3 linked regions of the Homo sapiens genome follow. Changing the gene in region 1 together with any one later gene gives a genetic interaction. Each region holds a gene or a part of one and is shown on either strand. Other genes may lie near its edges.

The links. A genetic interaction does not mean that the proteins touch.
Region 2: of DOT1L (region 1) and LIN28A, changing one suppresses a phenotype caused by changing the other (phenotypic suppression), as found in Homo sapiens cells (one study listed by BioGRID).
Region 3: of DOT1L (region 1) and NANOG, changing one suppresses a phenotype caused by changing the other (phenotypic suppression), as found in Homo sapiens cells (one study listed by BioGRID).

Annotation. Positions count from the first base shown.
Region 1 is NC_000019.10:2,166,926-2,173,950, forward strand, and holds part of DOT1L (histone-lysine N-methyltransferase, H3 lysine-79 specific), read left to right. Parts: intron 1-7,025. UniProt on the Homo sapiens protein: Histone methyltransferase. Methylates 'Lys-79' of histone H3. Nucleosomes are preferred as substrate compared to free histones. Binds to DNA.
Region 2 is NC_000001.11:26,406,854-26,413,827, forward strand, and holds the start of LIN28A (protein lin-28 homolog A), read left to right. Parts: upstream 1-3,963; 5' UTR 3,964-4,038; coding exon 4,039-4,069; intron 4,070-4,532; coding exon 4,533-4,729; intron 4,730-6,974. UniProt on the Homo sapiens protein: RNA-binding protein that inhibits processing of pre-let-7 miRNAs and regulates translation of mRNAs that control developmental timing, pluripotency and metabolism.
Region 3 is NC_000012.12:7,792,388-7,799,412, forward strand, and holds the end of NANOG (homeobox protein NANOG), read left to right. Parts: intron 1-562; coding exon 563-825; intron 826-2,069; coding exon 2,070-2,156; intron 2,157-2,291; coding exon 2,292-2,708; 3' UTR 2,709-6,759; downstream 6,760-7,025. UniProt on the Homo sapiens protein: Transcription regulator involved in inner cell mass and embryonic stem (ES) cells proliferation and self-renewal. Imposes pluripotency on ES cells and prevents their differentiation towards extraembryonic endoderm and trophectoderm lineages.

The DNA.
Region 1 (7,025 bases):
GCCATTCTCAGAAAGTTGGCTGAATGGAATCAACAGCATGTTGCCCTTTGGTCCTGGTGGCTTTCAGGCGGCCAAATCCGTGTTGCTGCAGGTTTCAAAAGTTACCCCATTTTTTTGCTGACTGTAAATCCATTGGACAGTTGGGCCACAGATTGTTGACGTGTTTGCCTGTGGGTCACAGGACTGTGGGCTGTTTCCAATTTTTGGTGATTAGAATAAACCCGCACTAAACACCACTGGCGGGATTTTTGGTGAAAGTCAGTGTTCGCGTGGCGAGGTTCTCAGGGGTGGACCGCACGGCCTGTGCTAAGCGTCTGTTTAACATCTGCATCCCAACAGTTGCCACTTGTCAGTGCTAAGAAACCCACTGGAACCCAGCGTCGGGGCCTGGGGTAGTGGTCTTGCCAGGGACCCTTTGCCTTTTCCTTGGTACTGAAGTGAACATTCACGTGAAGGCAGCCCTGGTGTCCCCGCCCGCATGCCTGCTGCCCTGCCTGGCCAGTGCTCCATTGTAAATAGTAAGGGCGAGAGCTGGCGGGAGCGGGCTTTCTAGTGGTGGGCGGGACTGTGCCGTGTCTTTCCCTCCCTGGCCAGGCCCTGGCTTGGCAGGGTGTGCTGGTCCTGGCGCCGTCTACGGCCTCTTCCTGCTCTGGTTGGCCCACTGCCGGGCCCAGCATCTTCATTCGCCCAAGTGCCAGAGGCAGCCTTCTGACAACCTCGCCGTGACATTTGTCATTTTCTGTGTTCCCGTTGAGGAATTTTGCTTTCTCACAAGAAGTGAGGGGTGGTTCTGATTTTCTTTTCTTTTCTTTTTTTTTTTTTTTTTTTGAGACAGAGTCTTGCTCTATCGCCCAGGCTGGAGTGCAGTGGCACAATCTCCACTCACTGCAAGCTCCGCCTCCCAGGTTTCAGTGATTCTCCTGCCTCAGCCTCCCCAGTAGCTGGGATTACAGACCTGTGCCACCATGCCTGGCTTATTTTGTATTTTTAGTAGAGACAGGGTTTCACCATATTGGCCAGGCTGGTCTCAAACTCCTGACCTCAGGTGATCCGTCCACCTCGGCCTCCCAGAGTGCTGGGATGACAGGCGTGAACCACCGTGCCCAGACGCAGCTGCAGCAGCACATTTATTCATGATTCATTCCAACAGCAGCTACTGAATACTCAGTGTTGTGGGGGCACAGAGGACAACAAGCCAATATTCTCCCCCCGCCACCGCCCCAGCATTCTTAGTCTCAAGAAACCTGTCAAATGAAGACAGGCCGGGCACAGGGGCTCATGCCTGTAGTCCCTGCACTTTGGGAAGCCCAGGCGGGAGGATTGCTTGAGCCCAGGAGTTTGAGACAAGCCAGGGCAACATAGGGAGACTCCATCTCTACCAAAAAATTTAAAACAGTGAAGTTAAGTAGATTATAAATAGAAGTTCAGCAGAGATACTGTGCTGAGTACAAGGTCAGCTGAGGTCCCCAGGGAGGGGCTGCCACTTCTGCCCTGGGGGACCTGTGGGTGGCTGCTTGGAGGAGGGGCCATCCGGAGGAGGAAGCAGAAATAGCCACAACTGTCCACGCTCGGAAATGAGCAGTTCGGAAGGGGTTTGCCCAATTGGCAAACGCAAGGGGGAGGAAGGGAGATTTTTATTCTTACATGACCTGGGAGTTCCTGGATAACCGCTTTTCTCAAGCCCCGCATGGCATTTCTTATTTTTTTGAGAGGGAATCTCGTACTGTTGCCTGGGCTGGAGTACAACGGTGTGATCTCGGTTCACTGCAACATCTGCCTCCTGGGTTCAAGTGATTCTCCTGTCTCAGCCTCCCCAGTAGGTGGGACTACAGGCACCCGCCACCACGCCCAGCTAATTTTTTGTATTTTTAGTAGCGACAGGTTTTCACTATGTTGGCCAGGCTGGTCTCGAACTCCTGACCTTGTCATCTACCTGCCTGGGCCTCCCAGAGTGCTAGGATTACAGGCATGAGCCACCGTGCCTGGCCCTGCGTGGTATTTCTAGGGCAGGATGGCCCTGCCCTTCTTCTAGTGGGAAGGGCACAAGTGGCATTATTGGTTGTTTGCTCGGAAAGAACCTTCAAAGGCCACAGAACGGGACCTTCCCCCTGGTGACTCACAGGCTGTGGGCGGGCAGGGGCGGCCTCCACTGGCCAAGGGTCCGGACTCTCTGACTCTCATTAATGAGTGAGTACATGTTCCGCCTGACAGCCTGGCCTGGAGCCCGGCTGTGGGCGGCGGTGAGTGGGCAGCCAGCAGTGAGTAGCAGCCGGGGCGGGGTGAGCTGTCCCCACCGTGACTCAGAAGGTATTTTCTGCTGCTGACCTCTGAGCTTGAGTGTCCTGAGTAATCCCAGCTCCCCCGGAGGCAGATTAACCTTTAGGCAGCTTTGTGTGAGTAAAGGAGTCGCTTTAAATAGGAAGGAATAATAGAAAAAACCCAAGTGTTCCGTTTTATAGCAAATGCACACTGCTTTGTTCCTGCTGGCCTGAAAGAGGTTGCAGGGGGTACTGGGGCGGGGAATTGTCCAGAAACTCTGCAGATGATACAGGGACACTCCAGCCTAGCCTCTGAGGAGAGTTTTTTTTGAGACGGACTCGCTCTGTCTCCCAGGCTGGAGTGCAGTGGCCCAATCTCGGCTCACTGCAGCCTCCGCCTCCTGGGTTCAAGTGATTCTCCTGCCTCAGCCTCCCGAGTAGCTGGGATTACAGGTGTGAGCCACCACGCCCAGCTCTTTTTTTCCTTTAAAAATCTGCTTGTTATCTGCTGCTCATCAGAGTGTATATTTGGGGTAATTCGAGCCTGTGCTCCCAGGTTGCAGTCCTCAAATGTGGCCCAAATAAATGCTCCACTTATATTAATTTTGCTCCAGTTCCTTTCCTTTAGCTCGACAGTGTGAATCTACAATTATCTTAAAATAAAAAGTTTAATTAAAAAAAACACACGGTTGCCCAGGCACGGTGGCTCATGCCTGTAATCCCGGCACTTTGGGAGGCCAAGGCGGGCAGATCACCTGCGGTCAGGAGTTCGAGACCAGCTTGGCCAACATGACGAAACCCCGTATTTACCAAAAATACAAAAATTAGCTGGGCGTGGTGGCGGTTGCCTATAATCCGGAGAATTGCTTGAACCCGAGAGGGGGAGGCTGCAGTGAGCTGAGATCATGCCATTACACTCCAGACTGGTCGACAGAGTGAGACTCTGTCTCAAACAAACAGACAAAATTAGATAAAGGAAAAAAGAATTTTTGTTCAAGTAATATTGGCCATTGATGGCTGCAAATCACTCTTGGTGTTACAGATTCCAGGAACAGGAAGATAGTGTCCGAGACCAGGATGCAGGAACAGATAGATGCCTTTCCACGCTTGCCCCTGGTGTGGTTGGGAGGCGTGACTGAAATCCTTGCTCTTGTCTCTCTGGACCTGATGCATTTTGCATGCCTCACTGGGCACGGACTGCTTGGAGCTGTTTTTATCTTCCAGCAGTGTGAGGTGTAGGAAGGACCCAACACGGTTCCTCCTGTGCTCTCCGCAGTCAACACAGAGGAGTTGCGGAACCAGATACGGGTACCCGGGGATTCATCAGTTCTGTGTTTCCTACTGGGCAGCCCCGATTCAACTCACTTCCAGCATGTCTACCTCGACACAGGCTCAGATCCCACGGGGTAAGGGCTCAGTCCCCAAGACTCCCCCACTTTCCATGCCAGTTAGAGGCCTCACGTTGTGACCTGTGCTTCTGAGTGACCGGTCGGCTGTAAATCCAGGTTCCCGTCACCCTTACCTCGGCTTGATTACATTGCCTCAGTGGCTCACAGAACTCCCGAGAAACACTTAGGTCCTTTGGTTAATGATAAAGGACGATCTGTGGGATGCCCATGAATACTGAGAAATGGATCCTCAGGGCAAGGCATGGGGGAAGGGCCCACTCCCTCCAGGAGTCTCCCGGAACGTGTGTCTCCCGGGACCTGTCCCCCTCCAGGAGTCTCCTGGAACCTGTCCCCCTCCAAGAGTCTCCCAGAACCTGTCCTTTAGAGTGTTGTTTCTCTCATTATTTTTGGGATAGGGTCTTGCTTTGTCACCCAGGCTGGAGTGCAGTGGCTCGATATCTGCTGACTGCATTCTCCGCCTCCCAGGCTGAAAGGATTCTCTTCCTTCAGCCTCCTGAGTAGCTGGGATTACAGGCATGAGCCACCACGCCTGGCTAAATTTTGTATTTTTTGGTGGGGCCTTGCTGTGTTGCCCCAGGCTAGTGGTAACTTTGATAAGCTTTGGGCCTCAGCCTCAGGCTGTGTGGTGGGGTCTAAGGTACAGCAGGGGCCCCAGAGGAGTCCTCCAGGGGAAGGACTGCGAGAATGCTGTGGCACTGGCAGAGCCTTTTACCTGGAGGATCCCTGCATTGAGCCCTTCTGGTCCCGAATTGTACTGAGCCCTCTTCTTCCTGCCTGTAGGCTGAAAGAATGAATTCCTGGCCCTGGAAGGTTCAAACAGCAGTTCTCAGGGGTGGAGGTGGCTCTGCCCCCAGGGGACACCTGGTGGCGTCTAGAGACCTTTGCGGTTGTCACCACCGGGGTGGGGGAAGCCCAAGGATGCTGCTCATCACTCACAGAGCTTGGGGCAGCCCCACCACCGAGGGCGGGCCAGGAGACGCCAAGAGCTGTGCCTTTCATCGCCTGGGGTCCCGGGCACCGACCGCCGCCGGGTGTCGCTCCGTGTTCGTGTACATGCCTTCTCCTGGGGGTAGCCCTGCTTTTATTTCCTGAGTGCTTCCTGGGACCATGCATGTCCGGCAGGCCCTGGCCAAGATCCAGGCTTGCTGCGTGCAGTCCCCGCCCACTGTGTCCCCCTGAGGGAAGGACCTGAGGTGAAGTTAGCGTAATGGGAGTGTATTTGGGCCTCGTTTGCGGGCTGCAGCTCTGGAGACACAGATTCAAGTGCCCAGAATGTATGCGCGGCAGTTACAAGTGGGGCTTCCTGGAGAAAAGAAGGGGCGGCTTTTGCATTGGAATCACAGAAGTGATTGCCCGGCTCCACGTCCTTCCTGGTATCTCAGACTCCAGGGACGTGAAGATAACAGATGGTCACATTGTGCAAATAGTGATAACCTTGTAGGTAATTCATCAGCTAGTGTGGAAACCCCAGGGGAGGAAAGAAGGCCCTGGGAGGGAGTGACTGAAACTCACTTGGAGGCTCTCTGGGCCTGTGGAGTTCTGCACAGCATGCAGCTCCCACTCCTCGGACGCACTTTTCTTTTTTGTTTTCTTTTCTTTCCTTTTTTTTTTTTTTGAGACGGAGTCTCGCTCTGTGGCCCAGGCTGGAGTGCAGTGGCGCGATCTCTGCTCACTGCAAGCTCCGCCTTCAGGGTTCAAGTGATTCCCCTGCCTCAGCCTCCCGAGTAGCTGGGACTACAGGCGCCCGCCGCCACGCCCAGCTAATTTTTTGTATTTTTAGCAGAGATGGGGTTTCACCATGTTAGCCAGGATGGTCTCGATCTCCTGACCTCATGATCCACCCGCCTTGGGCTCCCAAAGTGCTGGGATCACAGGTGTGAGCCACCGTGCCCGGCCAGCCACTTTTCTTTCTTTCTTTTTTTTTTTTTGAAGACAGAGTCTCACTCTTTTTACTCAGGCTGGAGTGCAGTGGCGCCATCTCGGCTTACTGAAACCTCCGCCTCCTGGGTTCAAGCCATTCTCCTGCCTCAGCCTCCCGAGTAGCTGGGATTACAGATGTGTGCCACCAGGCCCAGCTAGTTTTTGTATTTTTAGTGGAGACGGGGTTTCACCATGTTAATCAGGCTGGTCTCAAACTCCTGACCTCGTGGTCTGCCTGCCCTGCCTCCCAAAGTGCTGGGATTACAGGCGTGAGCCACTGCGCCTGGCAATATTTTTCCTCTTTTTTTTGAAATAACATCCTTGTTGTGACAGTTCACGTATCATAAAGTTCACCTGTTTTAGGCTGGACGTGAGAATGGCATGAACCCAGGAGGCGGAGCTTGCAGTGAGCTGAGATCGTGCCACTGCACTCCAGCCTGGGCAACTGCGCGAGACTCCATCTCAAAAAAAAAAAAAAAGTTCACCCGTTTTAAGTGTACATTTCAGTGTGTTTTAGTATATTCACAGATTGTGCAGTCGTCACCATTGTCTAATTCCAGAACGTTCTAATCACCCCAAAAGGAAACGCTGCCGCCTCAGCAGTCAGTGCTGGTCTCCCCTAGCGTCCTGGAGCGTTTTTCCCTGCATGGAGGCCCACGAGTCCCGCGCTTTCCTCCTTCCCTGTCACGCTGTGGCTTTAGGAGGCCCACGAGTCCCGCGCTTTCCTCCTTCCCTGTCACGCTGTGGCTTTGGCCTCAGGCTAGAGGGTCGGTGTCTGTCAGCCTGTGCTCAGACGAGGGCGAGGAGAGTTCTGGTCAGCGCGTCCAGCCTCCCTCCTGTGTTGCTTTGCTGCTGGAAAAAGAGGGTCCTGATGCAGACCCCAAGAGAGGAGAGAACTCGAGGTGAGCCGCGGATCACAGTGAGAGCAGCCACCAAGCCGCTTCCTTACACAGCGGGCCTCCCTGACAGAGCAGGGCGTCCTCGGGGAGCAGGCAGAGGGTGCCTGCTCTTCCTTAGCGCCTCCGTCTGTGAGAAACGGCCAGGGTTGCGAGTAAACCTGGAACGTGCAGACACTCACTGGAGGCCAGCCGGGTGGTGCCATCCGACCACCCTTCAAGCCCAGCCTGCTCACCGGCCCTCTCAGTACAGCGGGCACGGGTTCTGCGGGCTGCCCGGAAGACCTCCCCCAGACCCATAGATGCTCTGTGTCCTTGGTGGGCAGCTCATAAGTGTGAACCTTCCCGGTACCTTGCGAGTGCCTCACTACGCACTTCAAGACGGGGTCGCTCCGGTTGTGTTTTATGAAACCAGAGGCCTGGTGAGCTGAGCTTCCTCTCACAGCTTCACAGCAGCCTGTGTGGGTGGCCTCAGCCCTCCTGAGCCCCTCCAGTGTCGAGTTGCTTTGACTGTTTCCAGGGAACTCCTTTGGTTGTTGCGT
Region 2 (6,974 bases), on another chromosome or scaffold:
ACTACTTTTTACATGTCAGCTGGGCACGGTGGCTCACACCTGTAATCCCAGCACTTTGGGAGGCCGAGGTGGGTGGATCACGAGGTCAGAAGTTCGAGACCAGCCTGGCCAATATGGTGAAACCTTGTCTCTACTAAAAATACAAAAATTAGCCGGGCATGGTGGCAGGCACCTGTAATCCCAGATACTTGGGAGGCTGAGGCAGGAGAATGGCTTGAACCTGGGAGGCAGAGGTTGCAGTGAGCTGAGATCATGCCATTGCACACTAGCCCGGGTGACAGAGTAAGACTCCGTCTCAAAAAAAAAAAAAAAAAAAAGAAGAAGAAGAAGAAGAAGAACTAACTACATGACAGGAACTGTTTCAAAAGCTTTGCCTACATGATCTAACTTCATCCTCACAATATCTCTGAGGCCTCAGTATTCTCATTATTCCTATAGGACAGAGGAAGAAACAGAGGAATATAGAGGTTAAGGAAGAGCTGTAAATAGTAGAGCTGACATTCGAACATGGGTAATCTGACTCTAATGCCTTGTACTCCTTTAAAAAGTGGTAATAATTAAGAAAATAAGGCCGGGAGTGGTGACTCACGCCTGTAATCCCAACACTTTGGGAGGCCGAGGTGGGCGGATCACCTGAGGTCAGGAGTTCGATATCAGCCTGGCTAACATGGTAAAACCCTGTCTCTACTAAAAATACAAAAATTAGCCAGGCATGGTGGTGGGCACCTGTAATCCCAGCTACTCAGGAGGCTGAGACAGGAGAATCACTTGAACCCAGGAGGCAGAGGTTGCAGCGAGCCAAGATCGCACCACTGCACTCCAGCCTGGGCAGTAGAGTGAGAATCTATCTCAAAAAAAAAAAAAAAAAAAAAAAAAGAAAAGAAAAGAAAAAGAAAAGAAAATTAAAAACAGAGATTAGTTTTTCTTCTACTTTGGTCTTCTTTGACTCAAAAAATATTATCTCTTCTTTCCTAACCCTTTACAGCCATATTATGGGAAGTAGGTTTCCCATTTTTCTGAAGAGGAGTTTGAGATACCTGCATCTCTCTCACAAAATCATATACTACTGGGAATCTCTCTCTCTCTCTCTTTGAGACAAGGCCTGGGTGAGTCTGTCACCCACGCTGGAGTGCAATGGCACTATCTCCTCACTGCAACCTCGGCCTCCTGGGCTCAAGTGATCCTCCCACCTCAGCCTCTCAAGTAGCTGGCATGCGCCACCACATCCGGTTAATTTTTGTATTTTTTTTAGAGATGGGGTTTCGTCATGTTGCCCAGGCTGGTCTCAAACTCCTGTCCTCAAGCAATCCTCCCACCTTGACCCCCCAAAATGCTGGGATTACAGGCGTGAGCCACCACGCCCGGTCGAAAGTGCCATTTCTTTAGCATTCAAAAAAAGTATCTTAGGCCGGGTGCGGTGACTCACACCTATAATCCCAGCACTTTGGGAGGCCCAGGCGGGCGGATCACTTGAGGTCAGGAGTTCAAGACCAGCCTGGCCAACATGGTAAACCCCGTCTCTATAAAAATACAAAAATTGGACGGGCGTGGTAGCATGTGCCTGTAATCCCAGCTACTCGGGAGGCTGAGGCACGAGAATTGCTTGAACCCAGGAGGCAGACGTTGCAGTGAGCAGATATCGTGCCACTGCACTCCAGCCTGGGTAACACAGCAAGACTCCGTCCCCCAAAAAAAGTGTCTTCATTCATCTGAAATGTGTCAGTGTTACCACAGCGGGAACCGGCATTGAGGAAAATCAGGTTTTCTGGGAAAGACTTGGAGGTGGGAACTCAAGAAGTTATTCTCAAAACTGTGAGCTGGGAATCAAGACAGCGTGACTCAATTCAGCACCGTGGACAGAGCTGCTGGAGCCCTCAGGACCCTGGACAGAGAAGCAGGCCGCGCATTCCCGGGGAACCGAATTCGCATCACTTGAGAACCCACCTAGAGAAGCCAGAGCGTTCAACTCCCCTTTCCCTCCCTTTTCTTCAGCCAGACCTCAGCCACTTGCTCCTGAGTCTTAGGAACAGAGGTACACGGAGCGAATATATTTTAAGGGCGCCACTAACAGCGGGAGATAAGACTTTTGGGAGAGGAGAATTATGTAAATAAAAATGGCTTTGGCTGATGTACTAGGAGAACTCTTGATAATTCTAAATTAGAGTCCTCAGATGGGAGTGGGGCACTGCTAATAATATTTGTTAACGATATGTATTTTTTAGGCGGAGCAGCAAAGGGCCACTCTTGTCCTTTTTACCCCACGAAGTCCCACCTCCCATTCCTTACGCTCAAGTTTTCATTTCTTGGAGAGCACCCCGTACGAGAGAAAGGGAAATAACTTCTGCAGTCTCTTGCTTTCCTCCCCATCTTCCCCTTCCCTACCCCCACTCATCCGGTCTCTCTGAAATACACATGTGCCCACATCCGCACGTGCACACACACACACACACAAACACACACACAGAGCCACAGCGTGAGAATTCCAAAAGGTTCTGCACACTCGGTGGAGAAGATTGAATTCAGAGCAAGCGGATGCCCCCGAAAGCAGGCTCTGTCCCTTTAAATGGGTTGTAGTGGTGGGGGAGGGGAACTGGCCGGAGCTGGCATTGTCCAGTTTGAACTGAACACCGGAAGTGAAGGGGCAGGGCCAGGGCCGTGCACTGAGCCCCGGGCCATTGTCCATCTCCGACCAGGGCAGTAGCCACCCCCACTAGCCAGCCGTCTTTATCTCCTAGAAGGGGAGGTTACCTCTTCAAATGAGGAGGCCCCCCAGTCCTGTTCCTCCACCAGCCCCACTACGGAATGGGAGCGCATTTTAGGGTGGTTACTCTGAAACAAGGAGGGCCTAGGAATCTAAGAGTGTGAAGAGTAGAGAGGAAGTACCTCTACCCACCAGCCCACCCAGTCCCTCTCTCAGCAGTGGATGGGGATGGGGTGGGGGTAGGACGAGAAGGCAGCTGGTGGAGAAACAGCTTCAAGACTCTTTGGGTTCCTCCTGCTCTCCAGGGAGCTTACCTGGGGCTAACTTTAGACACACAGGTTTGGAGGGAGGAAAGAAGGAAGAATTCTTTACAACGAATCAATTAAGAGCACTTTCTCTTTTCTAACTGGGGGAGGCCCAGAAAAACTCTGAGTCAGAAACTCTGGGAGGCAGACATTCAGATGTAGTCAGAGGCAGACAGACTTTGGAAGGCAGCGCTTTGGTCAGGACAGATCAGCCCTGTGTGTCCCCAGCCTCTCCCCTGCTCCCCCATCCCGGGCTTCCCAGTGTCCAGAACTCCAGGTCTATCTAAGCACACGGGGGTGGGGGGTGAGAGCGGGTCAGCTCCAAGCAGCCGGGTCAGCTCAGAGGCCTGAGGGGGAAGAGAGGGGGAGGGGAGCTCAAGGGCTGGGGGAGGGGGAGGGCCCATTCATTTCTCCCTTGACAGGTGGTTTGTGTTTCTGATTGGCCAGCGCCGCCAGGCTCACACCTCCCTCCCCCAACTCTCTGGAATGTATAATTATCTGCCCGGGGGGTGGGGGTGGTGTGTGTGTGTGTGTGTGTGTGTGTGTGTGTGTGTGTGCAGTCACGTGGTTTTAAAACTACCCCCCCCACCAGGTCCCCCACCTGTATCTGCTTTGGGGACCCCTACTGAGTCCAAAGTGCAGGATCTCAAATTCCGGGGTACTCAAGTCTTCTAGGGCAGACAGACCCATCTCCAGTTGTGCGTGTGGGGAGGGGGTGTCAAACCTCAAGGTTCTGAGAAGGGACACCCCAGAGGTGTCAGAGACCGGAGTTGTGGGGGAGGGCCGGAGCTGGAGCCGGAGGGAAAGGGAGGGGAAAGGAGAGGGAGGGGAGGGGAGGGGGCTGCCCGCGGGGGGTTGGGTCATTGTCTTTTAGAATTTGGGAGCCTTTGAAAAGCCGTGGGCCCTCCCACCGCTATTGTGCGGGGGAAGATGTAGCAGCTTCTTCTCCGAACCAACCCTTTGCCTTCGGACTTCTCCGGGGCCAGCAGCCGCCCGACCAGGGGCCCGGGGCCACGGGCTCAGCCGACGACCATGGGCTCCGTGTCCAACCAGCAGTTTGCAGGTTCGAGCTCGGGACTTAGCGGGGACACTTTAGGATTCAGGGGCGGCCAGGAGCCACGTAGAAGGGAGGTGGGGAACTGAGTCCTAGGCTGCCCAAAGGACCCCAAGACGGTGCGGCCTTCTGCTTCATAGGGCCGTCTCTGGGGCCAGGAACCTTGGTGTCCCAGTGGCGTGCGCGCCAGACTACGTGGGTGGATGGAGAGGAGAGGCTTGTCCCGCCGTGAGTCTCTGGGAAACGCGTTGTGGGAAGAGGAGCAAAACTTTCGGGGCACTACTGTCCCGGTGTACGCTAGGGGAACGCGGGAGGCGACCGGGATAGGTTTCTTCTCTTCTGTTGCTTGGTAGCTGCCCCCTCCTGGCTGTCCACTTGTGGGGCTGGATACTCGGGTCTCCCTGCCTGGGGCCCGAGACGGCCCTCCGATTCCGTGCCCCCCAGCTAAGTGCCCGGCCCTCCCTCTCTCCAGGTGGCTGCGCCAAGGCGGCAGAAGAGGCGCCCGAGGAGGCGCCGGAGGACGCGGCCCGGGCGGCGGACGAGCCTCAGCTGCTGCACGGTGCGGGCATCTGTAAGTGGTTCAACGTGCGCATGGGGTTCGGCTTCCTGTCCATGACCGCCCGCGCCGGGGTCGCGCTCGACCCCCCAGTGGATGTCTTTGTGCACCAGGTGAGACTGATTCCGGTAACTTTGCCCAGGGAAGGGCGTCTAGGCGCCCATATCCACGGGTGGGCTCCGGGCTCGCAGTTGAATTGAGGGCCATCGGGAGCCCTCATTATGCATCCCTGTCTTTGCTTCGGCACCCCAATTCTGAGTCCCTGTTAACTATCTCGTGGGGGAGTAGTGGGAGGCAGCACCAATTATCAGCACCCCCGCCCCCTTCCGGGAACCCCTCCGGCTTACCACGTGTCTATTACCTCTTTCCCCTGGGAAGGGGCAGGGGGCAGGGAGGTGACCCCATGTGGCAGAAACTAAGGTTGTATTGTGCTTGCCGGTGGGGGGAGGGCGAGCAGGCCGGCCAGGGAAGCACATGCCGGGCCTAAGCCGGGAGCCCAGCTCCTCCAACGTCTGAATGGAGCTCAGAAGGCGGGAGAGAGTGAGGGCAACTGGCTACTGGACCCAAGGGGCGTAAAGCCGAGAAGTCAGCCTCATCCCCTTTTTAATGCAGACCTCACCTGGCTGGTCACTAAAAACTGGGTTTGGCAGATCCCTGAAGGATCCCTGTGGGGGCTTGAAAGCTCAGGACTGGGGTCTTTGCTGTCCAGTTCCCGTGAGGAAGGAAAACCCAAAGAGCCCAGGCCTTCCTTACATTCCTGGGCCAGGCTGGGAGGGAAGTCGGTAGGTCGCAACCCCAAGTTCTCAGTTAAAGCAGGGCAGCACAGTAGGGGGTGAAATTCAGTGTCGCAGGGCAGGGGGTGAAGGGAGGCTGGCCTCTGGTCCTATTCTCCGCTTGGCATTTATGGCCCCAGACAGCCATTGATTGCTGTCTTAACATTCCTGGCCTCAAACAAGGAGCCAGAGACTTCAGGTCTCCCTCCTCCCAGGCTTCCCCTTCCTGAATATCCTAGAGGCATTCCGGTGGTCCTGGGCCACCAGCTACCCATAAAGACCATGGAAAGGAAGTTGCTTGCTGCCTATGGCCCTTCCATCTTTGGAGGTTTGGGACTGGATCTGGAAAGAAGAAATTGCTAATCCCAGATCGTGTAGGTTGACACCCAGGCCGGGCAGGGAGGGGTTACTTAAGGGAGGTTGGCTTTAGGAGGTGTGGGGGAGGGGAAAGGAGGATGTGGGGATTAAGGGTTGGAGCCTGAAGGGATGGCATTCTTTGGGGGAGGGGTAGAGAAGGGAGATGCTGGATGGACTAGTTGGAGGCAGCAGGGACGTCTTTGAGCACAGCCTTCAGTGAGGAACAAACAAGGGAAATAGACGCAGGGAGATGGGGAGCCACCACTTACTGTTGGGGCCATGGGGTCAGTGGGCTACTTGAACATCTGCCAAGAGGACCTGCAGCAGGATACTGAGCTGCCCCTTTGCAGCACCCTTATTCCCCCAACCCCCCATTAGACAGCTAGTTTCCCACTAGTGGCTTTTCTCCCTTCTCTGTCTCATTTACATATGTGAATGATAACCCACAGGAAGTAATTGTGGGAGAAAGAAGGGAATTGGCCTTTTTAGATCTATTAAATCACTTTATTACAGGAACCAGCTTTGAATGGCCCTCCTCAGCAGGGTAGCAAGCCTCCCCCACTCTCCCATTTATCTGATCACAAAGAGATTAAAATCTTTCCTGGTCTGGGGACTGGACAGCTCCCCCAACTTTGGGAGGCTGGAATAAAAGAGTCAGACCCAACGTTTTCTCATCTCCCATCCAAAGGCTGCCAGATAGGGAGGGGCTGAGGGGAATGTATCCCCTCATCTTCTGGGTTCCTTGGTGATATACATACCCCAAGGAAGGTGTTTTCTTGTTTTGTTTGTTTGTTTGTTTGAGCAAATGGGGACTTGGGCCTCAGCAGGCTTCACCTTAGGATCTAGAGCAATTGGGAAACTATTGGATGGCATAGAGCAGGCATTGAGTCTACACCATGCTGGGTCAGATGTGCTGGCTTGGAAATACTCTGGATTTTAGGCTCTTGGAACATCCAGGAACCCATAGTTGAGTAAGTTGTCAATAGGGAGCTGAGCTGGAAGAGAATTAAGAATTTGTCTCTCTAATCCCCAGCTCTTCCCATTCTACTCACAAAGCACAATGATGGGTGGAAATTCCCTGAGCCTTTACCTGGTAGCTCTGATAATGGTAGCATGCCAGAAAGGCTTGGGTCAGGGGTCCTCCAACCCCACCTTAACCGTAAGTTAGATTAGTGATTCCAGTCTTTGCACTTGTTTTTTTGTTTGTTTGTTTGTTTGTTTGTTGCTT
Region 3 (7,025 bases), on another chromosome or scaffold:
CTGATGAGGTGGCTCACACCTGTAATCTCAGTACTTCGGGAGGCCGAGGCAGGCGGATCACGAGGTCAGGAGTTCGAGACCAGCCTCACCAACATTGAGAAACCCTGTCTCTACTAAAAATACAAAATTAGCCAGGCGTGATGGTGCCTGCCTGTAATCCCAGCTACTCAGGAGGCTGAGGCAGGAGAATCGCTTGAACCCAGGAGATGGAGGTTGCAGTGAGCCGAGATTGCACCATCGCACTTCAGCCTGGGCAACAAGAGTGAACCTCCATCCTAATTTTAAAAAAAAGGGGTAGCGCCGCTCAGCAATGCATTGGCCACCATTATAGATCTCTCCCAACGCAGTCTATTATGTACAAAATGGAGATACTGATAAGACTTCTTGGAGTAATACTATATAAAGCTTGCCAAAGTGCCAGGGCTGCTTAAGAAATTGCTTCTTATTACTTAGATCTGGGGTTCTGGGAATTATCAAAGTACTTTGAAAACAATTTTTTTAAAGGATATTTTAATATTTGAAAAATTTTAGACAAAAGTGTCCTTTTATTTGTTCCCAACAGTCTCTCCTCTTCCTTCCTCCATGGATCTGCTTATTCAGGACAGCCCTGATTCTTCCACCAGTCCCAAAGGCAAACAACCCACTTCTGCAGAGAAGAGTGTCGCAAAAAAGGAAGACAAGGTCCCGGTCAAGAAACAGAAGACCAGAACTGTGTTCTCTTCCACCCAGCTGTGTGTACTCAATGATAGATTTCAGAGACAGAAATACCTCAGCCTCCAGCAGATGCAAGAACTCTCCAACATCCTGAACCTCAGCTACAAACAGGTAGGCTTGTTTTGTCCTTGGAATAAGGTGAACAAAAATTGGACTAATTTGCATGGCTAAGACCTCTGTGGATGCATGTAGATGTGTGTACTATGTGTCCGTACATCGCCTCTTGCAAATAATTTATGAAGATGAAATGCTTTTGTAACTTCCTTCACCTCTTTCTTTCCTTAAATATTCTATTATGTGAATAATTATGTCATAATTTAACCACTTTCTTGCACAGACCAATATTGTGAAAATCTTTCCAACGTTTCCTTAATAAAAAAGAAGTATCTAACTCCACTTACCAGGGTAGGAGAAACCCTAACTCACACTGGTTCTCATTAAAATAAAAACTTTTTTTTTCCTTTTTTTCTTTCTGCCAGCAACTCCAGCTTGTTTTGTTTTTTATCTGTGTGCATTCAATAAGGCCAATCATTGTTTATTACTTGTTGGCCATTTTCCTTCATTAATTGGCTTATCCTCTTCTAGGCTTTATTTCCTTCTTTTCTTTTGTTTATTTTTGAGACGGAGTCTCACTCTGTCTCCCAGGCTGGAGTGCAGTGGCCTCATAATGAGACATCATAATGACATTAGCATTACTTGGTTTAAGTACAAATGGATGAAACCTCCACCTCCTGGGTTCAAGGGATTCTCCTGCCTCAGCCTCCCAAGTAGCTGGGATTACAGGCGCCCGCCACTACACCTGGCTAATTTTACTGTATTTTTTAGTAGAGATGGGGCTTCACCATGTTGGCCAGGCTGGTTTTCAACTCCTGACCTCAAGTGATCCACGTGCCTCTGCCTCCTAAAGTGCTAGGATTACAGGTGTGAACTACCACACCCGGCCCTTGCCTTTATTTTCTATCCAAAATGTTCATTTCTCTCTTTTTTTCTGAGACAGTCTGGTTCTGTTGTCACGCAGCTGGAGTGCAGTGATGCAATCTTGGCTCACTGCAGCCTTCACTTCCCAGGTGCAAGCGATCCTCCCGTCTCAGCCTCCTGAGAAGCTGGGACCACAGACGTGCAGCATTACACCCGGCTAATTTTTTGTATTTTTGTAGACACGGTGTTTCCTCATGTTGGCTAGCCTGTAGCGAACTCCTGGGCTCAAGCAATCTGCCCGCCTTGGCCTTCCAAAGTGTTGGGATTACAGGCATGAGATATGGCACCTGGCCAGGAATAAAAGTTAGCAATATACTTTGATTCAAAGTACCTCTGTATTATGAATATTTTACAATTTCTATCATTTTTTCCTGCAGGTGAAGACCTGGTTCCAGAACCAGAGAATGAAATCTAAGAGGTGGCAGAAAAACAACTGGCCGAAGAATAGCAATGGTGTGACGCAGGTAACAGGAAACTTCATTCTGTTCTTTCCTTTCAGTGATCTTTCAATCTTGTCCATCCCTGAAACACACAACTCCAGTCACAGACAGTTCTGGTTGTCCTTGTACCCTTTCTGTTAATCCCTCCTTCTCTTTCAGAAGGCCTCAGCACCTACCTACCCCAGCCTTTACTCTTCCTACCACCAGGGATGCCTGGTGAACCCGACTGGGAACCTTCCAATGTGGAGCAACCAGACCTGGAACAATTCAACCTGGAGCAACCAGACCCAGAACATCCAGTCCTGGAGCAACCACTCCTGGAACACTCAGACCTGGTGCACCCAATCCTGGAACAATCAGGCCTGGAACAGTCCCTTCTATAACTGTGGAGAGGAATCTCTGCAGTCCTGCATGCAGTTCCAGCCAAATTCTCCTGCCAGTGACTTGGAGGCTGCCTTGGAAGCTGCTGGGGAAGGCCTTAATGTAATACAGCAGACCACTAGGTATTTTAGTACTCCACAAACCATGGATTTATTCCTAAACTACTCCATGAACATGCAACCTGAAGACGTGTGAAGATGAGTGAAACTGATATTACTCAATTTCAGTCTGGACACTGGCTGAATCCTTCCTCTCCCCTCCTCCCATCCCTCATAGGATTTTTCTTGTTTGGAAACCACGTGTTCTGGTTTCCATGATGCCCATCCAGTCAATCTCATGGAGGGTGGAGTATGGTTGGAGCCTAATCAGCGAGGTTTCTTTTTTTTTTTTTTTCCTATTGGATCTTCCTGGAGAAAATACTTTTTTTTTTTTTTTTTTTGAAACGGAGTCTTGCTCTGTCGCCCAGGCTGGAGTGCAGTGGCGCGGTCTTGGCTCACTGCAAGCTCCGTCTCCCGGGTTCACGCCATTCTCCTGCCTCAGCCTCCCGAGCAGCTGGGACTACAGGCGCCCGCCACCTCGCCCGGCTAATATTTTGTATTTTTAGTAGAGACGGGGTTTCACTGTGTTAGCCAGGATGGTCTCGATCTCCTGACCTTGTGATCCACCCGCCTCGGCCTCCCTAACAGCTGGGATTTACAGGCGTGAGCCACCGCGCCCTGCCTAGAAAAGACATTTTAATAACCTTGGCTGCCGTCTCTGGCTATAGATAAGTAGATCTAATACTAGTTTGGATATCTTTAGGGTTTAGAATCTAACCTCAAGAATAAGAAATACAAGTACAAATTGGTGATGAAGATGTATTCGTATTGTTTGGGATTGGGAGGCTTTGCTTATTTTTTAAAAACTATTGAGGTAAAGGGTTAAGCTGTAACATACTTAATTGATTTCTTACCGTTTTTGGCTCTGTTTTGCTATATCCCCTAATTTGTTGGTTGTGCTAATCTTTGTAGAAAGAGGTCTCGTATTTGCTGCATCGTAATGACATGAGTACTGCTTTAGTTGGTTTAAGTTCAAATGAATGAAACAACTATTTTTCCTTTAGTTGATTTTACCCTGATTTCACCGAGTGTTTCAATGAGTAAATATACAGCTTAAACATAAATCTTTGTTAAATTTTTGGTTGGGGTGGAGAAGGAAATTAGCTGAGGACACTGCTATCTTAGAAATGCATAGAAATAGCTGAGCGTGGTGGCCTATGCCTGTAGTCCCAGCTATTTGGGAGGCTGAGGCAGGAGAATCGCTTGAACCTGGTAGGTGGAGGTTGTAGTGAGCCAATATCACACCACTGCACTCCAGCTTGGGCGACAAGAGCAAAACTCCCATCTCAAAAATAAATAAATAAATAAGTAAATAAATGAATAATAAATAAATATGCCAGTTTTAGAATGAATGAATAATAAATATGCCAGTTTTAGAAAAAAGGGCACTTACGTGCATTGTACATGTGCATCTACAAATGTAATGGGTTATTTCCGTGTATGAATCTGTAATTGATGCTAACATTTAAAGTTTCATCAGAGGCCTATATGTAAGTAAATTCTAAGGCTAGTTGAAACAGATTTATGTTCTCACCTTAAGAGCAGCTACGCAGGCATCTGTGAATTATACTAATAATCCTTTACTGTCCTTTTCCCATCTTGTGCCTGCCCTAAATGTATCTGATCTGAGAGCACGTCCCTTCACTCTGAAGCAGCATGATGCAGGTTATCAGAGTGGTTTTTTCCAGTCTTTTCTCTCATTATTTCCCCAATTGTCCAATGTTACTAAGACTATCCAGTCTAATTCCAAGTGTTTTTTTTTTGTTTTATTTTGTTTTTTTTTAAGACTGGAGTCTTACTCTGTTGCCCAGGCTGGAGTGTAGTGGAGCGATCTCGGCTCACCGCAACCTCCGCCTCCCGAGTTCAAGTGATTCTCCTGCCTCAGCCTCCCAAGTAGCTGGGACTACAGGGGTGAGCCACCATGCCCAGCTAATTGTATTTTTAGTAGAGACAGGGTTTCACTATGTTGGCCAGGCTGGTCTTGAACTCCTGACCTCATGATCCACCAGCCTTGGCCTCCCAAAGTGTTGGGATTACAGGCGTGAGCCACTGCGCCTGGCCTATCGTTTGTTTTTTTAGACAGTCTCTCTCTATTGCCCAGGCTGGAGTGCAGTGGCACAATCTTGGCTCACTGCAACCTCCGCCTCCTGGGTTCGAGCAATTCTCCTGCGTCAGCCTCCTAAGTAGCTGGGATTACAGGCACCCAACATTACACCCGGCTAATTTTTGGTATTTTTAGTAGAGATGGGGTTTCACCATGTTGGCCAGCCTGGTCTCGAACTCCTGACCTCAGGTGATCCACCTGACTCGGCCTCCCAAAGTGGTGGGATTATAGGTGTGAGCCACCGTGTCTGGGCAATTTTTTTTTTTTTTTTTGAGATGGAACTTCACTTTTGTTACTCAGGCTGGAGCACAATGATGCAATCTCTACTCACTGCAACCTGCACCTCCCAGGTTCAAGTGATTCTCTTGCCTCAGCCTTTCGAGTGGCTGGTATTACAGGGATTTGCCACTATGCCCAGCTAATTCTTTGTATTTAGTAGAGATGGGGTTTCACCGTATTGACCAGGCTGGTCTCGAACTCCTGACCTCAGGTAATCCACCCTCCTCGGTCTCCCAAAGTGCTAGGATTACAGGCATGAGCCACAGTGCCCAGCCTTCTTTTTTATTTTTTTAAGACGGGCTTATTCTGCTGCTCAGACTGGGGCTTAGTGGCACCATTTCACCTCACTGTAGCCTCGACTTCCCGGATTCAAGCAATCCTCCTGCCTGAGTCTCTCAAATAGCCCAGACTATAGGTGCACACCACCATGCCAGCTAACTTTTGTGTTTTTAGGAGAGACGGGGTTTCCCCATGTTGGCCTGGCTAGTCTCAAACTCCTGAGCTCAAGCAGTCTACCAGCCTTGGCCTCCCGAAGTGCTGAGATTACAGGCATGAGTCACCAGCCTAGCCCTGTATTATGTTTTCTGAACTTTTTTTTTTTTAATCACCCAGTATTAATCTTCAACCTCTTGGCAGGTAAGAATTTAGAGATCTATTTGGAATAATCTTTAAAGTAACAATAATAACTACAGTCAAAAGCAGTAAGATTAGTGGGCCAGGTGCCGTGGCTCACACCTGTAATCCCAGCACTTCGGGAGACCAAGGCAGGTGGATCACCTGAGGTCAGGAGTTCAAGTTTAGCATGGCCAATATGGCGAAACCCTGTCTCTACTAAAAATACAGAAATTTGCCAGAGGTCTTGGTTTGCGCCTGTAATCTCAGCTACTTGGAAGGCGGAGGCAGGATAATCACTTGAACCCGGGAGGTTGCAGTGACCCCAGATAATGCCACCCCACTCCAGCCTGGGCGACAGAGCGTCACTGTCTCAAAAATAAACAAAAATAATAGGAGATTAGGCAAAAAGGATAGTACAAGGCTCTCTGTTTAACATTTCTTCCTTTCTCTAGAAAATTTTCCTTTCTTTTCCCAAAAGGAGGTGTGTGTTACTTCCAATGCTATATTTTAGTAGCTTTACCATATTTTAGTTTTTAAAATTCATTATTTTGATTTCTCAGCTTTCATTTTCATTTCAGTTTGTACCTGAAGGAGAGAAGCATGGATTGAATTTGCCTGGGTTTTCCGAATTTCATAATATAAATTTAAAACTCAGAAGTGGGAGGAATACAGGCCTTGATTAGTGAATTTCAAGCTCAGTTCTCGGGGTGAAGGACAAGGTTAATTCTACTCTGAGTAATTCTACCGTTCAGAAAACCTGGTGTGTCTACAGGAAAAAATACAGGCTGTGACTACAAACCTAAAAGTAAAGGCAAACAACTGCCAGACAGAGGCAGGAAAGTGGGGGAGAGCCCTTGGTAAATATTGCATGCCTCCTGGGGCCCCCATGGGCTTTGACTCAAGGGGGAGATGAAGGGAATTTGTTAAAGAAAGAAGTCACTGGGACAGACAAAAGCTTCCGGCACAGGAAGTTAGTTCGACTAAGGATACCGAAATGTAGGAATTTGAATGGGTTCCTGGGTGTGAGGTTGAAGTGAAACTTGATTGAAAAGAAGCTGCTGGTGGTGAGTCTCTCCTTAAGCTATTCCTGGCTTCTGGGTAGTTGGTGTAAACTCTGTGGTCCTTGAATAAAGTGTGCTTGAGAATTTTAGAAGGTTAAGCATCTGAGAAATTACTTCAATGCAGTGGTAGCACTACCTCTGATGATACTACCAAGCAAACTATTAAGAAACAGAAAAGCTCACAGATCAAATTAAGATGCTAGAATCGTATTAAATCAATTAAATACATGGAACAAAACAGGCAAAAAGATGGGATACATTAATCCATTTAGGATAAGGTGCATGTGGAGTAGAAAGGGTAGCAGTGTTTACATGTCCTCTGATAACACTGGCGTAGTCACAAGAGCTAAGGACA